Linked DNA regions of Homo sapiens: region 1 is linked to region 2. The links come from fine-mapping of genetic effects on gene expression. Tissue or cell type: whole blood. Region 2 holds a variant in brackets; the other region holds the start of a gene. All regions are shown on one strand. Distances are between the middles of the regions.

What was found. PIP is the estimated chance that this variant, and not a neighbour inherited with it, causes the effect.
Region 1: FSD1L starts here. The variant in region 2 is fine-mapped to the expression of FSD1L in whole blood (TOPMed, PIP 0.97).

The regions. Positions count from the first base shown.
Region 1 is chr9:105,443,692-105,452,180 of GRCh38, forward strand. FSD1L (fibronectin type III and SPRY domain containing 1 like) reads left to right here and starts at 4,343. Exons shown (of 14, transcript NM_001145313.3): 1 at 4,343-4,544. The coding sequence starts at 4,530. RefSeq lists a silencer at 4,224-4,833.
Region 2 is chr9:105,539,321-105,547,809 of GRCh38, forward strand. It overlaps FSD1L (fibronectin type III and SPRY domain containing 1 like), which reads left to right. Exons shown (of 14, transcript NM_001145313.3): 13 at 1-31; 14 at 7,038-8,489. The coding sequence ends at 7,163. Among named protein-coding and RNA genes, the nearest start is that of FKTN, 15 kb to the right of the region's middle. The variant C/G (reference allele first, on the strand shown) is at 4,720.

The sequences.
Region 1 (8,489 bases), 96 kb before region 2:
GAGGCCAAGGTGGGAGGACTGCTTGAGGCCAGGAGTTCAAGACCATCCTGACCAACACAGCAAGACCATGTCTCTGTTAAAAAAAAATCAGAATTAGGTTTCTATGGTTGGGAAGAGATAGCTAATATTTTTTGAATGCTCACTACATGCCAGACACTGTGCTCAAAATTTAATATGAATTATATGATTTACCACTCAACAACCCTTATAGGTGCTACTTTTATGATCTCTATTTCACAGCTAAAGAAACTGAGGCTTAGAGAGCCTTGGAGTCTTCCCAGGCTGGGTGGCAAATGCTAAGACTCAGGCCAGATATAGTAGCAGGGAGCAACGGGCAAAGATTTTGGGCTTCAACAAAGGGCAGCATTTGACTAGTGATTATACTCCAGAAAAAACAGGTATAACAGGGAAAGGGGGAGTTGTGGTGAGAATAGGTCTTTTAAGGCCCCAAAGATCCAGAAGGAAAAAGAGCTGTGCAAGGGTAAAACAGAAGGACATTATGAGTAAGAGAGTAATTATTAGTAACAGCTACTACTTGTTAAATAATACTAGCCAGCATTTGACCTACATAATCCCCTTTAATCCTCACAGCAACCCTAAAAGGGAATTACTACTATTCTGATCGGTATGTTACAGACGAGGAAATTGAGGTTTAGCAAGGTAAGTGACTCACTGAAGGCTACGTTGCTGGTAAGCAGCAGCATCTGGATTTAAATTCACACTGCTGACTCCATGCTGATGGCCCTATACTGACTCCCAAAGGGATAGACTGCTGGCAACACTGAAAGGAAGGAAATTTCTCTCCTAAGAGATGGGGGAATTTCAGAATATACGAGGTAGCCCAGGGCTGCAGGCAATACCTGGCACCACTCAGAGAGGATACAGAACCTGGTTCTGGGAGAGACAGTTTTGCCAGACTCTCTACATCAGCCTTTCTATGAGGCTATCCTAACTTGAGGTTTCCTCAGAAAGAGGTTCCTGGAGGCCCAGAGACCTCAAGAGGATAAATGTCTATGACTAGATAGGCTTTTTAAGAACCAGAAACCTAGGTTTTGAACTGATATTTTTATGCCTCTGTAGTCCTCTCCCCGACCCCTTTTTTTGTAAACAATTTGCTTTCTCGCAGTTCAATGGCTCTCAAGCTTAGAGTTCATCAGAATCACCTAGAGGAAATGCTAAAACACAGATTTTTGGATTCTACTCCAAGAGTTCCTGATTCAGTAGATCCAGGGATAAGGCTGGACAATTTGTACTTCATAGAAGTTATGAGGTGATGTGGATTCAGCTGGTCCAGGGATCACATTTAAGAAAAATGCTTTATTTTATTTGTAAAACTACTTTTGAAAATTTCTAAATGGATTTGGCTGTGAAAAAATAAGTACAGAAAAGGCAAAGGACTTGCCTATAGGCCAGAGGTACTGGGAGGGATTGGGTGGGAGACTTAGAGCCCAGCTCGGTACGTGGCTGTGATGGGAGAACTTGTACAAACTGGGGAAGACAGAAGTCACAGTCAGAAGGAACTAGCTGTTTCCCAGATGGGAACGAGGGGAAGCAAAAGGCCCAGGATGAGCTGGGCAGGAGAGCCAGACTGGCCAGAGACAGAGATCAGGTGAGGGCAGAAGCCAAATGGGGTAGAGATGTTGTCAAAAGCTGCAGTCTGCTGGCTGGGCTACAGGGAAAGAACTTGGGAAGCTGGAGGCAAGGAGCCAGGAGTGAGCTCCTGGGGTGTGGACTGTGACAGAGTCTGGTGATCACATTTCAGCTGCAACTCACTGTCCCCAAAAGCCTCTTTCTTCTTTCTCTGGTGGTGCCTGTCAGTCATAAAGTGCCTAGGAATTGCCCTCAGACAGTAATGAGGTTAAGTCCTTGCAGCAAGAGAAGTGGGGACATCGCCAAGCCCTGTCTCCTCTGCTTAGTCGTGGGTCCCATAGTGGCAAGCAGGGGCAGAGCCAGGAAGCACGCAGTCTGGTGAGTAGACTTTAGATGTTCTCCAATCGCCAGGCTATTTCTCCCTCATGGGAAACTGACTCAACTGCAGTACACAGTGTGAAGGAACGACCTTTGTGGCTGCAGCAGTGGGCTAATGGCTTGGCGCCTGGCTGCACTTGTTATTCCTCACGGAGTTGGGAAAGGTTGAATAAGAGGCTCTCTTCCCTTGGTACTAAGAGATGGGCATCTCTTTGAAGGACTGCATGCCACTACTCCTTTCAGCTGGCACACATAGGCCCACCCTGGACCCTGGCTCTCTAAGCACTACCCACCCAGCCTTAGCCAAGCTCTTCTTTTCCCTTTTGTAACTTTCATTTCATTTCTTGTACATCTCTGTCCAGTTAAAAAAGGATGTATTAAGTGCATACTATGTGGCAGACTCTGAGCTGGGGATACAGATATGGGGTAAAAGAAATTCAGCCCTCAAAAAAAAAATCACAGTACAGTCAGGGGGATCCATGTGGAGATGTAATGACAACATTGTAGAATAAATGCTGTTTCTCAAACACAGAGCTCCTTCTCTCCACAAGGCCTTTGTATTTGTTGTTCCTACTTTCTAGAATGTTCTTCCCTAGATCCTTGTACAATTCCTCTTCTCACTTTATACTCAGGTCATTTCCAAGAGAGATCTTCCCTGACATTTCTATGAAAAATTAAACCCTCCCAATTCTCTGAATCCATTTGCCTTATTTATTTATTTAGGAGCTGGGGTCTCACCCTGTTGCCCAGGCTGGAGTGCAGTGGTGTGATCTAGGCTCACTGCAACCTCTGCCTCCAGGACTCAAGTGATCCTCCCGCTTCAGCCTCCTGATTGGCTCTGGCTACAGGCTTGCAGCACCACGTCTGGCTAATTTTTTTTTTTTTAATTTCTGTAGAGATGGGGTTTTGCCATGTTGCCCAGGCTGGTCTCGAACTCCTGGACTCAAGTGATCCACTCATTGGGCCTCCCAAAGTGTTGGGATTACAGGTGTGAGCCACCATGCCTGGCCTAAGTTTTAATTTTAGCACCTATAACCGTCTAGCACGTTAACTTTTTTTTTTTTTTTGGTTGGTCTTCTATACTAGATTGTAAGCTCTGTGAGAGAAACAGGGCCTTGCCCACTACTGAATTTTGTTTGTAGAACTGGTACAGAATAGGTACTCAATATGTATTTCCCTTTTATTCATTCATCATAAATGACTGTCTAATTGAACTTTTGTGAGCCTCTCCAGAGTCATCCAAATGGAAGATGAGGCCTGTCTGCTTGAGGAAGAACTTTCTCAAGCCTACTAAATTCCAAGCTTTCTAAAATCTTCATTGATGCCTCAGGCCACACCGAGCAGGTTCTAACTCCCCACTAAGAATGACTATAATGGGCCTGGCACATGCCCTGTAACCCACACCTGTAATCCTAGCAATTTGGGAGGCTGAGGTGGGCGGACTGCCTGAGCTTAGGAGTTCGAGACCATCCTAAGCAACATGGCTAGAACCAGTCTCCGCTAAAAGTACAAAAAATTAGCCAGGTGTGGTGGGGGCGCCTGTAATCCCAGCTACTCATGAGGCTGAGGCACGAGAATTCCTGGAACCCGGGAGGCAGAGGTTGCAGTGAGCCAAGATGGCACCACTGCACTCCAGCCTCGGTGACAGACCGAGACTCCATCTCCAAAAAAAAAAAAAAAAAAAAAAAAAGAGAATGACTATAATTTATTCACTACTAATTATGTACCATACGTTATTTAATCCTCACAATCCTCTGCAAAGTCCGCATTATTTCTCTCATTTTACAGATGAAACAAGCTCAGGCAGACTGACTTGCTCAAAATCATACAGGTAGCGAGGTGCCGGGGAGGATGGGTGGGTCCCCGGGAAAAACTGTGCCAGGCCCCAAAGCTCATATTAATCCCACACCCACGTTTCCGCCACTCTCATCCCTATATCCCTCCTCCCACGTTTCCACCACATCCCCTAAAGGTCTTTTCCCACGTTTTCGCTACATCCCCACCCCAGCCCTTTTCCTCCCTTTGGACCGCTGGGTCCGCTCAAGCCTGGCTGCCCCTCGAAGGATAGTGTGGGGAGGGGCTTCAGATGCGTGCTGGGTGGAGGGTGGGCTAATCCGTCTCCAGCACCAGATACTCTTTCCTTCCCGGGCCCTCCGCACCGGCCGGCTGCTGGATGCCCAGTGGCCTATTTCAGGGCCGGAGAGACCGCTATCGCTGGAGGAAAAAGGATGGGGGAAGGGAGTGCAGCCTGCAGAGGCACTAGCGGTAGACAGACGGGCGGCGCTCCCCACCCTCCACGGCTACTTCCCGGGAGCAGTCAGCCGCTGCGCGCAGGCGCGGTGCGCTCCTCAGCCCCTCCCTTCTGCGGGCCGCCCTTTCACCCTGGCAACCGCGGCGTGACTACGGCGCGCGCGGTCTGGGCGCGGACGGGTGGGGCCGGGCGGTGCCGGTGCGGGCTGGGGCAGTGCAGTGAGTAGCGGTCTTGGGGTGTGCGATCTCGCTGAGCCTCCTCACACGGTTCGTCGTCTCGGGTTCGAGCCCAGTGGGCTTAGCCACTCGCCATGGACTCCCAGAAAGTAAGCGGGGGAGGGGAGCCCGGGGCTACCGAGACAAGCCGGGCCGGCACAGGGTGGGCGGGGCGCCTGGGCCCGTGGGCTGTGGGTGCGCGGGGTGGGCCTGGCCGGGCGTCCGGGCTGCTGCTGCGGAGGGCAAGGCCGCCCGGCCGCTCTCTGGGCGGGAGCTAAGAGGCGCCCACACGGATGCGGGGACCGCGCCCGGTGACTCGGGCTGGCCTCTGCTCTGCGCGCTGTCCGGGGCCCTGACTCTGGAGGAGAAACGGAGCCATCCCCCTTTTAAAATCAGCCACTCTGCAGCGCTTTAGGCCGGTTTTCATGCCTGCAGACTGCGAGCGTGCTGGTGGGGGTGTATCCCTCCTCAGCAGGTGAGGAAACCGAGGCACAGCCTTTTTGGTGTCTCCCTGCTGACGCCGAAAGCTGGGGCTTTCTCCTCGACCAAGTCTCGTCTCAGCACCACGCTCTTTAGGTCAGGGACCGAATCTCCTTTGTACCGCCCACCGCTCCCCTTCCCATGACTTTTCCTAAGTAGATCTTAGTGTTTAGTGTTCGTTGAATGGAGGGAAAAGACTTCAATTGTTAGGGCAGCCTTCCCACTCTCTGACCAGTTGGTGTTGCTGGGCACAGTTACTTAGGGGTCGTTGTGGAATGTTTTATACTTTCCGAACAGTTGAGGAAAGGTTATATAATCGTAAAGGTTCAATTCAGAAGTATTTGGAGAACAAAGCCAATGTCTTGAATACAGTTAGAAGTGAATTATTCAGTCATAATCTCCATATGAAAATAACCACCCTGTTCTCTTTGTTAGACTATAACGTAATTGAAATATAGTACAGGGTAGGAAAGAAAAAACAAGGAGTATTAATAATGTAGCAGGGAAAACAAAGACATATCTAAGAGACTATTCTTTTCTATTATTAGAAAGCACGGGAAAGACTTAGAACAACGTTTTCTACAATTTTGTCTACATTCACCTTCTTGAGGATCACTTCACTGAGGGCATGAGAGAATAATGATGTGTTGAGCATTGACTATTACAGTATTTAACAAATATGCATATGATTTCATTGTATGTGTTGGTCTTGAAACTCACCTTGGAATGCATGACTATTCTTAAGGCATTTTTTAAAAATTAGATTTTGTGTATTTTGAGTATGTATAGGTTTAAAATATTGTCTCTGCCTAAATTTGTAAAACATCTCTCAGCTTATTAGATAAAAGAAATGATATTTGAATGGACATTAGCAGAGGTCAAGTGAAGGAGCAAAGTCCGGAGACATGGGTTCCAGGATGCTATTTACTAGCTCTGTGATAAGGAGCAAGTCACTTAACTGTGATTAATCTGTTTCCTCATCTATGCAGTAGAAGTAAGAGTATTTTATAGTGTCATAGTAAAAATCTGATAAAATAGTTTGTTCTGAAAACACAGCATTTTAAAGTTTACAAAGTATGACCACTAAAATACTGTGTCCCATAAAATACAAAAAAATGTGTTTTAATATTGATCATCATACTTTATCAGGGATGCATTATTCCTTACTTTAATGAGTTGTGACTCCTGGAAGGTCATGCTACTAGCCCTAAGGCTAAGATTTGAACCTATTTGTTCTCATTTCGAATGATGTGTTAGGGTACCTACAGGTTACCACGTGCAGTTTCCTGAGAGGTAGCAAAGAATTAGCTTCTCTTTCTTAGTAGTAGTAGTAATGTATCTTATTTGTGATATCTTTGAGAATCAACTTCTCAATATTAGAAAATATGTTGAATTTCATTGGTGGTACCAAATCTTTCTAATGAAAAAACAAACACCCTTTGGTTTATAGCTGTAAAAAGAATGTCCGGGATTAATGTGTATAACCAGTTCAGTGCTCTGAACCTGAGCTTCCTTTTCTCGTATGAATTCCTGCAGAATCACAAGCCTCAAATAGTAATGATCTAAGCTGGATATTGTTCTCTTTAAATAAGACAGTAGTACACCCCAGACATGATTTTTAGATACTATTTTCTGTTATGGAATGTACATTGAAAATAGTAGTAGGGGTAGTACCTCAGTCAGTAGAGTATAAGAAAAATAGGTACTGCAAAGTGTGAGGAAGGCCTGAATATATACCTGAATGTTTGTTAGGCATTGGGATTTGGGCTTTACATTAGTAAGAGGATGGCTCTGGAGCCAAGTCTCCAGTTCTACTATTTATAAGCTGTATGAGCTGGGATAGTTTGCTCTGTCTCCATTTCTTCATCTGTAAAACAGAGATAACAATAATTGTAATTCTCTCACAAGATTATTGTGAGGATTGTGTTCTTTTTTTTTTTTTTTTGAGACGGAGTTTTGCTCTTGTCGCCCAGGCTGGAGTGCAACGGTGCAATCTTGGCTTACTGCAACCTCCGCCTCCTGGGTTGAAGAGATTCTCCTGCCTCAGCCTCCTGAGTAGCTGGGATTACAGGCGCCTGCCACCACCCCTGGCTAATTTTTGTATTTTTAGTAGAGACGGGGTTTTACCATGATGGCCAGCTGGTCTCAAACTCCTGACCTCACTCAGGTGATCCGCCAGCCTTGGCCTCACAAAGCGCTGCGATTACAGGCTTGAGCCACTGTGCCCGGTCTTGCATTCATTTTTAAAACCCACTAAACAGTGCCTAGCATACAAAAATACTGTTAGCTACTGTTATTAATTTAATAATCCTAACTTCAAAGTAACTTTCTCCTTTTAAAATTAAGTGTAGACATTTTTCCTTTTTTTTGAGACGAAGTCTCGCTCTGTGGCCCAGGCTGGAGTAGTGCAGTGGCGCGATCTTGGCTCACTGCAAGCTCCACCTCCCAGGTTCACGCCATTCTCCTGCCTCAGCCTCCCGAGTAGCTGGGACTACAGGCTCCCGCCACCACGCCTGGCTAATTTTTTGTATTTTTAGTAGAGACGGGGTTTCATCATGTTAGCCAGGATGGTCTCTATCTTCTGACCCCGTGATCCGCCCGCCTCGGCCTCCCAAAGTGCTGGGATTACAGGCGTGGGCCACCGCGCCCGGCCCGACATTTTTACTTTTAAAGCATCTTTTCTGCTATTATATCTGTAAGAAACGATTCACATGGTGGTTCCAGAGAAGAGTTGTTACATTCTAATAGAAAGAGGTTTGGAAGTTCTGAGTCATGCAGTCTGACAGTAGAGGTTAACTTAACTAGGCAGTCTTACAGAAGCTTCATGGTGGCTAGTCAACAAATGGATTAGCTTGACCAGCTGCTTTTTTGTTTGTGAAAATAACTTGGACTTCAGTGTTAATGTTAGCAGCAGATGCTCTGTTTGAGTAGAGGAAGAAAACGTAATAACCCCGGGTATGTAGGCATACTGTTGGATACAGAAAACCACAGTATTAACTCCTGGAAATAAACAGAGGGATTTTGTTTATATCGAGTTTCTGGGACGCTTTCGTGAACAGGATGTGTTATGGATAGGTGGCTTTTGTTTGATACTCAAACCTTTTGATTATGCCTTTAAACGGCTTTAAGATAAAATCCCAAAGGTTTCTTTACCGGATGAAATGTGCACGTTCAAAGAAAACGTTGAAACAAATAAGACATTTGTACCTTTTTAGAATCTTGGAGCTTGGAATTTTATAGTTTAACTTTTTGTACAGATTATTCACATACATAGGGATCACTCTTTCTAAGAAAGGTACTTACTGTAGGAATAAGAAAGGGTGGAGAGGAAGGGAGATGAGAGCTCAGAGGAAGGAAGTCACCAAGAGCATATATTGTCACTTGTTTGCTTTTCCCCATTATTTTTCCTGCATATTCTTCCTACTTGGAAAGGGGTAGTGAGTGACAGGTGAGGCTTGACTGGACAAAACTAGATTGGGGAGATTGAACTGAGCAGGAGTTTTAAACATGACAACCTGCAACAAGTAGCAGATCTACACTTGGCTTCCTTATCCCAGTTTCCTGCTCCAAGCTAT
Region 2 (8,489 bases):
ATTTACTCAGCCAGTACTACCTGGTTTCATGGTTAGTATGTTTTATATCTTATATATACCTAACATATTTTACTTGGTTGGCAACTTTAAGGAGAATATTCTATACTGTATATTTGGAGAAGGAGAATATTTTGTTTTTTCTTCATATTCTCCTCCATTTCCCCAATTCACCCTCTCCCAAATCTGTGATTGTTTTTATATATTTTTGGTATATTTTATTGAAGTTTATGTTAATACATGAAGTACACAAATCATGTAGTTTGATGAGTTTTTATAGGACTGCACTCATGTGTAACTAGCACTTAGAACATTACGAGAACCTCAGAAGCCCCCTCTAGTGCCCATTTCCAGTCCCTAATGGCCCTTCTCCAGTGTTAGCACTGTATTGACTTTTAATACCCTAAATTTACTTCCTTTTCAGTTTTATATAAACAGAATCATACAGTATCTTTTTGACTCAACATTATGCTTGTGAGATTAATCCATATTCTATGTGGTTATAGTTCATTCATTCTCATAGCTGTATAGTTTTCCATTCTGTGACTATATCAATTGATTTATAAATTTTAATTTAGTTGGATATGTGGGTGGTTTCCATTTGGGGGCTATACAAATAGAACTGCTATGAATACTTTTGTTCATATCTTTTGATAAATGTATGTGTATATTTCCATTGAGTATATACCTATGATTGGGGTTGCTAGATCATATCGTATATGTATAATCAACTGTAAAATTGCCGGTTTTCTGAAATGGTTGGTTATGCTAATTTACAACTAGCAGTATGTAAGAATTTGAGTTCCTTCAAATCCTTGTCAACACTTAGTATTATCTTTTAAAAAATTTTTTGTCCTTCTAGTGGATGATATATTACATTTTGGTTTTAATTTGCATTTCCTTGATTACTAGTGCTGTTGAGCACCTTTTTATATATTTGTTGACTATTTGGGTATATGCTTTTGTGAACTGGCTATTCAGATCTTTTGCTTGTATTTCTATTAGGTTGTCTTCGTGTTTCTTATGGGTTAATTTGTAGGCTCTTCTTCACTCTGGCTTTCCTTTTTCCTTATTGGTATTGTTTGATAAACAAAAGTTAATTTTGTTCAGTTTATCAATTTTTTCATTTACAGTTAGCACTTTTTGTGTTCTGTTTAAGAAATCAGTATGCACCCCCAAGGTCATGAAAATATTCTTCTAAAAGCTTTACCTTGTACATTTAGATATAGACTGCATTTACAATGCAAGTACAATGTAGAATTGATGTGTTTGGTATGAAGTAAGGATCTAGATACGTTCTTTAATTCCCCATGGATATCCAGTTATTCCAGGACCATTTATTGACAAGATCATAGTGCAGTGTCATCTTTGTACAAAATATTAGATGACTGTCTTTGTGTGCTATGCTGAATATATGTATGCACACCACATAGCAATTACATCCTGTGTAATTGCAGGTCTACTCAATTTCAGGCTGAAAAGAAAAATTTGTTTCTCTGCACAAAATAAAACATGGTTTTGAATTTATTTAAGCAAATGTTATTGCTTTTTCCAACTCATAACCTTCTGCATCTTTTCATAGGTTAGGTTCCCGTGGGGAGTTGTGGGATCCAGTTAAAGTTACCATTACTTTGGCTAGAGCTTTTCTTAAATTTGGAGGCTACCTCTATAAGTCAAGATGGTATATTTCAAATGGAATATTTTGCATGTATATTCTTCTGTCATCACCCCTAACTGTAACTTCTCAACTATAAGGAGAAAGTTTTCAGAGTAAGAGTGGGTTGAAAATACAGTGCTTTTAAATCTCATTATCCATAGTAATTATTTATTCCAGATACTTTAATCTCTTAAGTTTAAAACAATGCTAATAACCAGGACACCTATTTTTACATTAAAAGTAAGTGATTAGTGACTAAAGTTATTGCTCATGGAAACATAAAGATACTGGAAGGGAGGGTTGTTTCTTTTTCCTTTTTTTTTTTTTTTTAACTTTGTACAAACCTCTGCCATATTACGCATTTTTGGCTATTTTTCCAAACTGGTCCATCAAGGATGAGTTGTTTACCATGTGGAATGCAGAAAAATTTTTTCCAAGACTTAGGTGTGCTTTTATAAATAGTAGATTTACTTTTAATTTGAATCTATCTCATGTATGTATGTACTGAGTTTATTGTTTTTCATTCCAAATAATACTCTAATTATATTAGTATATGTCATAAGATACTGCAAGAAATTATTTTAAGCTTGTTAAAATTTTTTTTCCTTCATTGAAGGCTTGCTTTTATTAAGTACGTTAATGCCTATTAAATGTTTTGTGTACAAGATTAATTTTTAAGTCAGTTTTATTGAATTTATAGTATGGTGCAGTTCTGTGGTTTTTAGCAAATGCCTGCAGTTGTATAACCACCACCATAATCAAGATATAGAACATTTCCATCACCCTAGAAAATTCCTTTGTGTTCTTTTATAGTGGACCGTTCCACACAACCAGCCCTAGCTATCAGTAACCAGTTCGTAGGCCCTATAGTTGTACCTTTTCCAGAACATCGTATAAATAGAATTGTATGGTATGTAGCCTTTCGATTCCGTACCATGCTGCATTTGAAATTCATCCATGTTGTTGTGGTGTCAGTATTCTCCTTTTTTTCATTGCTGAGTAGTGTTTCATATATGTATGTATCACAGTTTATTCATTCATTCACCAGTTGAAAGACACTTGGGTTTTTCCCAGTTTGGGGCAGTTATGAATAAAATCACTATAAGCATTTACATATGGGATTTTCCCTTGGGTAAATACCTAAGAGCAGTAATAGAGTAGCTGTATCACATTGAAAGTGTATGTTTAACTTCATGGGGAACTACCAAAATGTTTTCCAAAGTGGCTGTACCATTTTTTGCCTTCCTATCAGTGATATGAGAGTTGGTCATATCCTTGCCATTATTTGATATTACCAGATTTTTTGTTGTTGTTAAGCCATTTTAATAGGTGTGTAGTGGTATGTCATTGTGTTTTTATTTGTAGTTTCCTAATGACAAATGATGTTTCATGTCCTTATTTGCCATTCATATAATTTATTTCAAGTATCTGTTAAAATTATTTGCTTACTTTTTAGGACTTAATTGTTTTCTTATTTTTTTATTTTACTTTATTTTTAAGACAGGGTCTCGCTCTGTCACCCAGGCTAGAGTACAGTGGTGCGATCACAGCTCACTGCAGTCACAACTGCCTGGGCTCAAGTGATCCTCCCACCTTAGCCTCCCGAGTAGCTGGGATTACAGGTGCCCACCACCATACCCGGCTATTTAAAAAATGTTTCTTGTACAGATGGAGTTTTGCTATATTGCCCAGGCTGGTCTCAAAGTCCTGGGCTCAAATGATCCACCAGCCTTGGCCCCCCAAAATCCTGGGATTACAGGCATGAGCCACTGCCTGGTTTTCCTGTTTTTAAGAGTTCTTTATAAGTTTGGATGTGAATCCTTTGTCAGATATATGCTTTGCAAATATTTTCTCCTGGTTATGGTTTGCATTTTCATTTTCTGAACATTTCAGAGAGAAGTTTTTCATTTTGTTATGAAGTCCAATTTGGTAATTTTTTTCCCTATTATGGGTAATGCTTTGCTTAACTCAAGGTCACAAAGGTTTTATGTTTTCTTCTTGATTTCCCTTTGCATCTTCATGTTAGATATTTTGAGTAAATATTTTTCTAAATCATTTAAATAATTTCCAAAAAATAATATAGTAGTTTTATAATCAGAAAGTTGCTTTTGTATTTTGGGAGTTATCATTACTGAGCCTGTTAGTTTTGAAAATTTATAATGTTAATTATATAATTACAAATTTCACAGTTCAGTAGATTCTTTGGTATAATAATCTAGTTACTTAGTAGATATTGAACACTTAAGGGTATAATTGAAGGTGATGATACTTAAACAACTTCTAGAATTTCCCTTGCTTTAAGCTTGTGTCTACTATTAATATATACGGTAGTTGATGATAGTGTCAATGATCTGTATTTTCATATTTTAATTCTTTTGACTGTGTCCCAAATCTTATGTCTCACTTTATTGAATTATAGCTGCTCTGTTCACAAGCAGTTTTAATTTTATTTTATTTTTTGTTTTTATTTTTATTATACTTTAAGTTCTAGGGTACATGTGCACAACGTGCAGGTTTGTTATATATGTATACATGTGCCATGTTGGTGTGCTGCACCCATTAACTCGTCATTTACCTTAGGTATATCTCCTAATGCTATCCCTCTCCCCTCCCCCAACCCCACAACAGGCCCCGGTGTGTGATGTTCCCCTTCCTGTGTCCATGTGTTTTCATTGTTCAGTTCCCACCTATGAGTGAGAACATGTGGTGTTTGGTTTTTGTCCCTGCGATAGTTTGCTGAGAATGATGGTTTCCAGCTTCATCCATGTCCCTACAAAGGACATGAACTCATCCTTTTTTATGGCTGCATAGTATTCCCTGGTGTATATGTGCCACATTTTCTTAATCCAGTCTATCATTGATGGACATTTGGGTTGGTTCCAAGTCTTTGCTATTGTGAATAGTGCCGCAATAAACATACATGTGCATGTGTCTTTATAGCAGCATGACTTATAATCCTTTGGGTATACACCCAGTAATGGGATGGCTGGGTCAAATGGTATTTCTAGTTCTAGATCCCTGAGGAATCGCCACACTGTCTTCCACAATGGTTGAACCAGTTTACT[C/G]TCCCACCAACAGTGTAAAAGTGTTCCTGTTTCTCCACATCCTCTCCAGCACCTGTTGTTTCCTGACTTTTTAATGATCGCCATTCTAACTGGTGTGAGATGGTATCTCATTGTAGTTTTGATTTACATTTCTCTGATGGCCAGTGATGATGAGCATTTTTTCATGTGTCTGTTGGCTGCATAAATGTCTTTTGAGAAGTGTCTGTCCATATCCTTTGCCCACTTTTTGATGGGGTTGTTTTTTTCTTGTAAATTTGTTTGAGTTCTTTGTAGATTCTGGATATTAGCCCTTTGTCAGATGAGTAGATTGCAAAATTTTTCTCCCATTCTGTAGGTTGCCTGTTCACTCTGATGGTAGTTTCTTTTGCTATGCAGAAGCTCTTCAGTTTAATTAGCTCCCATTTGTCAATTTTGTCTTTTGTTGCCATTGCTTTTGGTGTTTCAGACATGAAGTCCTTGCCCATGCCTATGTCCTGAATGGTATTGCCTTGGTTTTCTTCTAGGGTTTTTATGGTTTTAGGTCTAACATTTAAGTCTTTAATCCATCTTGAATTAATTTTTGTATAAGGTGTAAGGAAGGGATCCAGTTTCAGCTTTCTACATATGGCTAGCCAGTTTTCCCAGCACCATTTGTTAAATAGGGAATCCTTTCCCCATTTCTTGTTTTTGTCAGGTTTGTCAAAGATCAGATGGTTGTTGATGTGTGGTATTATTTCTGAGGGCTCTGTTCTGTTCCATTGGTCTATATCTCTGTTTTGGTACCAGTACCATGCTGTTTTGGTTCCTGTAGCCTTGTAGTATAGTTTGAAGTCAGGTAGCGTGATGCCTCCAGCTTTGTTCTTTTTCCTTAGGATTGTCTTGGCAATGTGGGCTCTTTTTTGGTTCCATATTAACTTTAAAGTAGTTTTTTCCCATTCTGTGAAGAAAGTCAGTGGTAGCTTGATGGGGATGGCATTAAATCTATAAATTACCTTGGGCAGTATGACCATTTTCACGATATTGATTCTTCCTATCCATGAGCATGGAATGTTCTTCCATTTGTTTGTGTCCTCTTTTATTTCATTGAGCAGTGGTTTGTAGTTCTCCTTGAAGAGGTCTTTCACATCCCGTGTAAGTTGGATTCCTAGGTATTTTATTCTCTTTGAAGCAATTGTGAATGGGAGTTCACTCATGATTTGGCTCTCTGTTTGTTATTGGTGTATAGGAATGCTTGTGATTTTTGCACATTGATTTTGTATCCTGAGACTTTGCTGAAGTTGCTTATCAGCTTAAGGAGATTTTGGGCTGAGACAATGGGGTTTTCTAGATATACAATCATGTCATCTGCAAACAGGGACAATTTGACTTCCTCTTTTCCTAACTGAATACCCTTTATTTCTTTCTCCTGCCTGATTGCTCTGGCCAGAACTTCCAACACTATGTTGAATAGGAGTGGTGAGAGAGGGCATCCCTGTCTTGTGCCAGTTTTCAAAGTGAATGCTTCCAGTTTTTGCCCATTCAGTATGATATTGGCTGTGGGTTTGTCATAAATAGCTCTTATTATTTTGAGATATGTACCGTCAATACCTAATTTATTGAGAGTTTTTAGCATGAAGGGCTGTCGAATTTTGGTAAAGGCCTTTTCTGCATCTATTGAGATAATCATGTGGTTTTTGTCTTTGGTTCTGTTTATATGCTGGATTACGTTTATTGGTTTGCGTATGTTGAACCAGCCTAAGCAAAGCAGTTTTATCTTTCACAAAGTCATTCACATTTATGATAAGTAATAGAACATGGGAAGTACATCTGGATATTGGGATTTGCATTTTTGTCAGGAGTCCTTCTTAAATAATTATATAAGAGTTCTTATAGTTAACACGGTAAGGAAGAAAACAGTGGATTTTACTGTTAACTGAGGGGTGTTAGATTTTTATAGTCTCAGGCCATATCTCATTATCAAAACCAAAAGCATAAGTGGGAAGTAAGTTGGTGCTTTGTATGCTTCCCTTGGTTGTGAAAATTAGCATCAGTAATGATAGGTAATACCTTTTGCCTAGATTAAGCCAATGAAGTTTCTCAATTTCTGCACCCCTGAGTTCCTTCTCTTGGGTGCAGCTTCAGTTGGTTCTGCTACCACCAAGACCTCCTCTGGCCTCTGTGGTTCTAAAATAATTCTGATTTAGTCTTTCCATTTCCCCTCAGCTGAAATATGACAGTTAATGTGTTTGAGAATGATTGATGTTCATATGTGTGGCATTTTGCCTTTGAAATGGAAATTTAAAAATCACTGAAATTCTAGTTTGATTTGCAATCTGACAGGTTTTTTTGTCTTTTCTTAGGTATGGTGTGGTGGACTTTCTTTGAGTACTGGGATGCAGGTTCCAAGTGCTGTGAGAACACTTCAGAAAAGTGAAAATGGAATGACTGGTTCAGCTAGCAGCCTGAACAATGTTGTTACTCAATAGTGTCTACTCAGAATACGTTTACCCTCCGTCTTGATTAGGTGGCCTTTTCTGTGCAGTTACTAATCACAGGAATTTGGTAGTAGTGAAAATCAGGTTTGCTGTGTTCTGCTTTGAGGCCTGGAATCTTTTATCATTAAACACCTAGTACGAAGCATTTGCAGGAACCTACTGTGCAGTATCATAGAAGCAAGCAGATACCAAGCAAAAAACTGATGATTGAAGAGTAAATGGGGGAAAAGGCAGTGTTTAATTAACATAAAAACTCATTTTTGTATTTCTTGGATTACTTTGACTATTCTAATGTTTAATTACATATGGTAACCCTAAGGCCTGGGGAGAAAAGCTTTTAAATCTTGCCTTCTTTCTTCTGTACTTTGTCTTTTTAAAATCTCATTACTATCTATTATTTAGTTCTAACACAGAAGCTTTAAAAATACATAGTCATCCAAGGTTTTCTAAAAATTGAAATCATATGTTGGGAATGGTAAAAAGGTTTTCAAATGGTTTATTTTTCCTCTTTTATAAATAAGTTTTACAAAATTTTCCTCTTTTGTTTATTGACTAGATTGTATATAATTTTCTTTTTTCCAAAATATTGTGATAAGAAATTTCTAGACACAACAGCTTAAAATCACCCAAATTTCAGTTCTTTACCTACTGCACTAACAATGGCAAGGGGGGTATTCTTTATATGTTGCCTTGTTTAACTACAGTTCTTTTCATTCCATCACTTTAGGTGATGGGTAAGATTTTTGAAAGCCTTATATTTTTTGATTTTGTTGTCTAGTTTAATCCTACCTTTAATAGTTGTGTTTGGTAAAATTCCCACTTGAATGTGACACTGATAATAATTATGCTGATTTTTAGCATCTCTTATAGGAATCAAAGTTTATTAAAGTTACATAGAGGATTGAAAAATGTATATCACTCAATTTTTATCTAAGAAGGATAGGTTATAAAGGGAGGTACCTAAATACTCAAATAATGTATATATTCTTTTTCATAACATATGGAATGCTTTAAGCAATTGTTTTGAAAAAAATCTGCGTATCTTTGACTTAATTGGCACATGACTTTTTCAAGCAGCCATTCATTCAGAGGTTTGTTTTCTCTCAGTCCTTTTGCTACATTCACTTTCTTTTCAAAGAAATGTTAATTATTACAAAAATTGACATAGATATCTTTCCCAAACTTGGGGTAAAACCCATGGTTATGTGGAACATAACTGTTCTTAAAAAGTCAATTATAATTTGTAACTCACATCCTTTGAGCTAAACTAAATTAAAATTACAGTATTTAATAATTCTTTGGGCATTTTTAAGAGGT